Linked DNA regions of Homo sapiens: region 2 is linked to region 1. Evidence: fine-mapped expression QTL. A gene starts in region 1. The other region holds a variant in brackets. All regions are shown on one strand. Distances are between the middles of the regions.

What was found. PIP is the estimated chance that this variant, and not a neighbour inherited with it, causes the effect.
Region 2: its variant is the best candidate, but not a certain one, in a credible set for the expression of NOL8 in blood mononuclear cells (TOPMed, PIP 0.89).

What each region holds. Positions count from the first base shown.
Region 1 is chr9:92,323,476-92,326,393 of GRCh38, forward strand. It overlaps NOL8 (nucleolar protein 8), which reads right to left and starts at 1,875. Exons shown (of 17, transcript NM_017948.6): 1 at 1,831-1,875; 2 at 548-734; 3 at 1-28. The coding sequence starts at 686. CENPP (centromere protein P) reads left to right here and starts at 2,478. Exons shown (of 8, transcript NM_001012267.3): 1 at 2,478-2,630. The coding sequence starts at 2,524. RefSeq lists enhancers at 1,157-2,045, 1,824-1,943, 1,974-2,083.
Region 2 is chr9:92,268,054-92,270,971 of GRCh38, forward strand. It overlaps IARS1 (isoleucyl-tRNA synthetase 1), which reads right to left. Exons shown (of 34, transcript NM_002161.6): 13 at 1,832-1,930; 14 at 121-247. Among named protein-coding and RNA genes, the nearest start is that of MIR3651, 23 kb to the right of the region's middle. The variant GT/G (reference allele first, on the strand shown) is at 1,224.

The DNA.
Region 1 (2,918 bases):
ATATATGCAAAAACTTTCTGTGGGTTTCCTAAAAAACAAACAAACAAACAAACAAAACAATTTATTTAAATTCTTATCCAGAGAGCAATGTAAAAACGGTTGTTTCTAAATTAAAAAAAAAAATAGCTCTTGAAAACTTATTATTTCAAAGATAAACCTTGTTTTTTATTGGCTATAAAAATAAGCATAATTATCAAAATATTCCAAAAAAAAAAAGAAGAAAATGTCCAGTAGTCAGATAAGGAAACATTTTGATTGTATGCTAGTGATAGTCTACTTAACGGGACACTTAATCCATGTTAGAAAATTCTAGTTCTCAAAACTGGAAGTTAATATGTTTCTGAAATCAGATGTTTTAGAATTTGGAATTTTTTCTTATTTCAGAAACAAATTCTGGTCAAGTTCCACATCACACATTATACCTCCACAACATCACTTAAAACTTTTGGTGTTCAGAGCTAACATTTATCTTGGGGTTGTTTTATTTTCTAGCACTTAACCTGAGTTATGTCTGCCTATAACTGCCCAGTGAAGGACCATAAATTACCTTGGTCATCTTTCCGTGTGATGATCTCCACATCCGAAACTTCTCCAAATCTGCTGAACTGATTTTGTAGGTCTGCCTCAGAAATGTCCTGGCTAAGGCCACCCACATAAAGGCGCTTCGTTTCTCTGTTCACTTTCATGAAGGCTGGGCATATACTTGGGTGTGTTTCAGTGGGAAAAGTAATTTTCTGTATACAGAGAAGAGTTCTTTCCCTTAGTTCTTCTAAAATCTAACAAAACAACTACTTCCTCTGAACCTTCTGTATCAAATCCGTCTCCTGGATCTGTATTTCACTTCCTATTGTATTACTTCCAAATTTTAGTCTTCGAGGTTTTGCCCAAGCCCTACATCCACATCTTTCATGAATGCACTTTGGAACAGCAACCCCATACCCATATAGACACAGGTACAGACAGAGTTTTTTTCCTCCAAATGGCCATAATATTACACTCTATCCCTCTTAATTTTATGTATTCATGTTTTTAGATGTTTTTCCTTGACTCACTCATACATTCATTTACTGTCTTTAACAAAGTCTGACAGAAACAGGATGTAACGCACTAAAAGATAAAAAGAGCTAGCCTACCTCTTCCTAATTGTCTCCACCCCCAACCTACCCACCCCAGCCTTCTTCCTCCTAGAAGACCCAAAGAAGTGAATAGAGAGGCTAGGAGCTCCTTATAGTCACAAAAGAATAAAACAAATGGCACAATATTATGTCACAATAAAAGTGCTGCAAAGTGGGGTTCAGACACAAAGATCAAGGGATATAGCGAATACAGACTTGTGTTTTTGCTATGTGCCTGCATTGTACAAAGTAGTTTGCATGTTTCCCATTTTTCAGGAGAGCAGAAGAGGTTAAGTCACTTCCTCAATGCCATACCGAAAATTAGTGAATCCAGGATTATAATGCAGGTCTACCTTCAGAACTTGGAATTCTTAACACTATACTATGAAGGTTGCTGTATCACAGGGGACTCAGGAAAACTTTTCCAGAGGTACTAGGGCCCATCATAGTATCTCTCATTTCGTTTAGCACCCGGCAGGCGCTCAGCTCTCGCCCTTCCCTTCCCCAAGAGCTGACAGACTCTTTCCAGAAGAGACTCCCAACCAGCGTCCACCACATGGCGTGTATTCTGGGCAGAACTTCGGCCTACCTCTTCCCGATAGTCTCCGCCCCCAGCCTACCCACGGCAGCCTTCTTTCTCTGAGAAGACCCAAAGAAGTGAAGAGAGACTAGGAAACGGCCCTGTGACTTCTCATGCCCGAAACCCACTCCTCACCACGTCGTTCACCTAAAGCCAGCGCCGCTGCAGCCCCTAACTTCTGGTCACGTGTCCCAACGGAGCATCCTCTCTTCCTTCCTACTCGATTTCCAACCCAGCCTCCTAAGGTTCCGTTACCACAATTCAGTTCCCAAGAGCTTTTAATTTCCTTTTCCGTCCTCCCACCTTCCCTGACGCCTCCGTCACCTCCCCCTCAACGACTGCAAAAGAGCCTAAACCAAAATCCCCTAGTTTCTATTGAACACTATCGCTGTGTGTACCAATTCCTGGACTAGGTCGGCGTAAGAGAGGAAGTAGGTGAAAAAAATAAAGAGGCGCTCCCCTCCACGTGATCCCAGCCCTGCCTCTTTAGTGAGGCACGCGGCCGGGCGGCTCCAAGGCTGCCGGCTAGGGTGAGCAGCGGAGCGCTTGGGCTTGGAGTAGCAAAGAACGCGCTCTCCAGAGAAAGTATAGCCACTGCTTAGACAGCCAGGGAAACGTGTGCGGGGAAGTGGAGGACTCAGGCTCTCGTGCGAGAGCGGAGTTGGACGTGCAGGGCCGCTGGGGTCACGCGGAGCTCTCCCGCCTCCCCTCCGCGTGAGCTCTGGGATGGTCCGCGCCGGGAGCGCGCGCGAGGCTTGAAGCGCGGGTGAAGCGCGCAGGTCGGAGTGACAGCTGCGCTGCCGGCCCGGCTGCGGTCAGCAACGCGCCATGGACGCAGAGCTGGCAGAGGTGCGCGCCTTGCAAGCTGAGATCGCGGCCCTGCGGCGAGCGTGTGAGGACCCACCGGCGCCCTGGGAAGAGAAGTCCCGAGTCCAGTACGTGACCACCCCAAGTCCCCCAGGGCCCGCTGGCCAGGGTTCCCGGGCCAGGCGGGTGAATCTCCACAGACATCCTCGGTCTCCTACTCCCAGCCCTAGAAAGTGGGCATGAACTGGCATTGATCCTGTCATGACGATGGCCTAGAGTTGGGAGCAGCGCGTACGGCGCCCAGCTGTAAACGCATTGCAGGGTATTAACTCGTTTAATCGCAGTCGTCTGTGTGGATGACTGACAAGGAGGAAGTCTTGACTATATCCCTAGCTAGATAATTCCGCCTCCAGTAT
Region 2 (2,918 bases), 55 kb before region 1:
AAAAGATGAAATAAGAAAGGGGCAAAGAAAAAAACACCCTATTCTTTTAAACCACATTCAGATTTCATGAACAAAATGCTTTAGCAAAAATCAACACAAGGAAATACTGCCATGCCTCACCTCCTCAAAGTCATCGCTGACCCACAGTGGGATGGGGGTGCCCCAGTATCTGTTTCTGGAAATTGTCCAGTCACGTGCATCTTTCAGCCAATTTCCAAATCGTTTTTCTCGTACCAACTCTGGGACCCTGCAATAAACAGATCACATAACCAATCACATAAAAATATGGAAAAATTCAACATGTAAATAATACCCACAGGAGCCTTTGTATAACGCTTTGTGGACCAAACACTCTGGAAACGTGGCGCTCACTGCAAAGAGAATGTCTTCTAAATGGACAGCATAGCACACACAACAGTTTGTGCTGCCATCAATGACCTACATCCAATAGATTACCCCACAGCACACAGGCCTCCCATGTCCTCCTCTTCAACTGGAGTACAGCTGCCACATACCTCTAACCAGTCACCTTAGCTTTAGCCAGCCTCATCCCATACAACTCTAGTCTTCACATTATCCTCACCATAGCAGTTTTTCTGAACTCATTAAGCAAAGGCCAACAGGCCAGGGGATTGGTAGCTGCTCTAGCAGCCCTCTCTATAGTCACCTCTCTGGTCATCCTTGGTCTTGAATTTCAGGCTCTGGCAATGAGGCAAGTTCCCTAGAATCCTTCTCACTTAACTGGCTTTGCCCATGCCTGCCCTCTGACACGCAGCCTGCCTGCCCTCTGACACGCAGCTTCCCTCCCTTCTGCATCCATCCTCTTGCATCCCTCCCACTCCCAGTACTCTTTATTCCTTGAGGTTCAGCTTTGCAGAAATCCTTTTCAAGCACAAGGCTGAGTCAGGGTAGGCTACCAGACCTCCCCTTCTTCTCTTGGGCACTGCAGTTACTGCCCTGTACTTCAAAGATCAGTTTATATGCCTGCACCCCCTCGAGGCTATCTTACTAATATTCTATATCTAGTATCTTACACATTAGGGGAACTAATTAGCTTACTAGCTCTAAAAATGAAAAGCTGTCTTTTGAGAAATCAGGACCACTCTGCTAAGAAATATTAGAAAGCTACAGTTTATAACTATTTCCTTTGCTGCCCTGAGATTCTCCCCATTCTCCTAAACTCAGATACAGTTTTCTAGAGTCTAGTTGGGTCCTTGTGAGAA[GT/G]TAAGAGTGGTGATTACTTTTCAAACTTGTAGTGAAAAACATTCATCTGAAATACACAGGTTCAAGCCTTGTTTCATTTTGTACCCAGAGGCTGAAATGATACTTCTTGGGCTATCACCTGCAGGACACATATCAGCTATGGAAAGCAAAGGCTTCTGTGCTTGGAGCTTATCCATACAGCCAAGCACAGGGTACATCATCCACTGCAGGACCAACAAGAGTAAGTACAAATGGCTTTTGCAGGTATATCTGAAAATAATGTTTACTCTGAAAATGACTATTATTGAAGGCTAGCAAACTCTGGCAGTACAGCCATATTTTTCCAAGGTCATTTCATTCCCTAAATCGAATAAATGGTGGTTTATCATTTCCAATGAGTTTAAAAAGAAAAATACTCCCTTACATACTTTATCACAAGAAGGATGTTACTTCTGTTCTGTAACATTATTTGAATTATTTTGTGCTCCTAAACACACAGAAGAAAAGATAGCTATTACAATACCCAATAAAAGATGGGTTATTAAAATTATAACTTGGGGGAAGTGTAAACCATACTTACTAACCACATGACAAAAGACACTATGAAGAAACACATCTTACTGCTCACCAGTAGCACAGGTCATTGTTCCTTAGGAGCTGGTCCACCATGTTCTCCACTCGCACAAACCAGCTGGGCACTGCTTTGTAAATTAGAGGAGTGTCTGATCTGGGGAAGCAGAAACACACACATAGCTGCTCAGGCTGAGACTAGTAGGCACTACGGTAAGACTGACTTTTCATGTCTTATTGACAGCATCATCACTTACTTGGCCTTCTGCTAATATTCATTTTTATTATAGATAAAAACATCTAAGACTTCAAAATTGGTCATATCTTTCCACAATAGTAAGAAAGGCAAAAACTAATACAAGAACAAGAGTAGAAAAAAATAGTTCTGCTAGTGACAATTATCTAAGAAACAATGTCAACTTCAACTTCAACACAGAAGAGGCAATGTGGAAACCAAACACGATGCAACTGAACATTTCATTTTCACCCATACTTTTACAGCATGGTCTTATATTAAAGGTTAAAATCATATTAAATTTTTCAATAAACTCTATTACAAAATTTTAGAGATGCTTCTCATCCTAAAAAAAATGTGGCCACAATACAAAACAGATTTGTACAGGTCTATTTTTCTCTCACAGTTCCTTAGGAAAGCAACATTTTTAGCCATTCATAAAACTCTCCTAGACCAGGCGCTGTGGCTCATGCCTGTAATCTCAGCACTTTGGGAGGACAAGGTGGGAGGATTATTTGAGCCCAGTAGTTTGAGACCAGCCTGGACAACATGGCGAAACCTCATTTCTATAAGAAATGCAAAAATCAGCCGGGTGTGATGGCACCACCTACATAGTTCCAGCTACTCCAGAAGCTGAGGTGGGAGGATTGCTTAAGCCGGGGAGGTGGAGGGTGCAGTGAGCTGTGATTGCACCACTGCATTCCAGCCTGGGCGTCAGAGTGAGACCCTATCTCAAAACAACAACAAAAAAACAAACAAAAAACCCAACTCTCCTAAAAATGAAGTAAGAAGGTGGCTTCCCAAACCAACTCTAAAGGATACAAGTGAGATGAACACCACAAATAAGATGGAATGGGCACATATAGTAAGTGTAAGCACAGACTGGAAGCTCTAGCTACAACACAGTCTT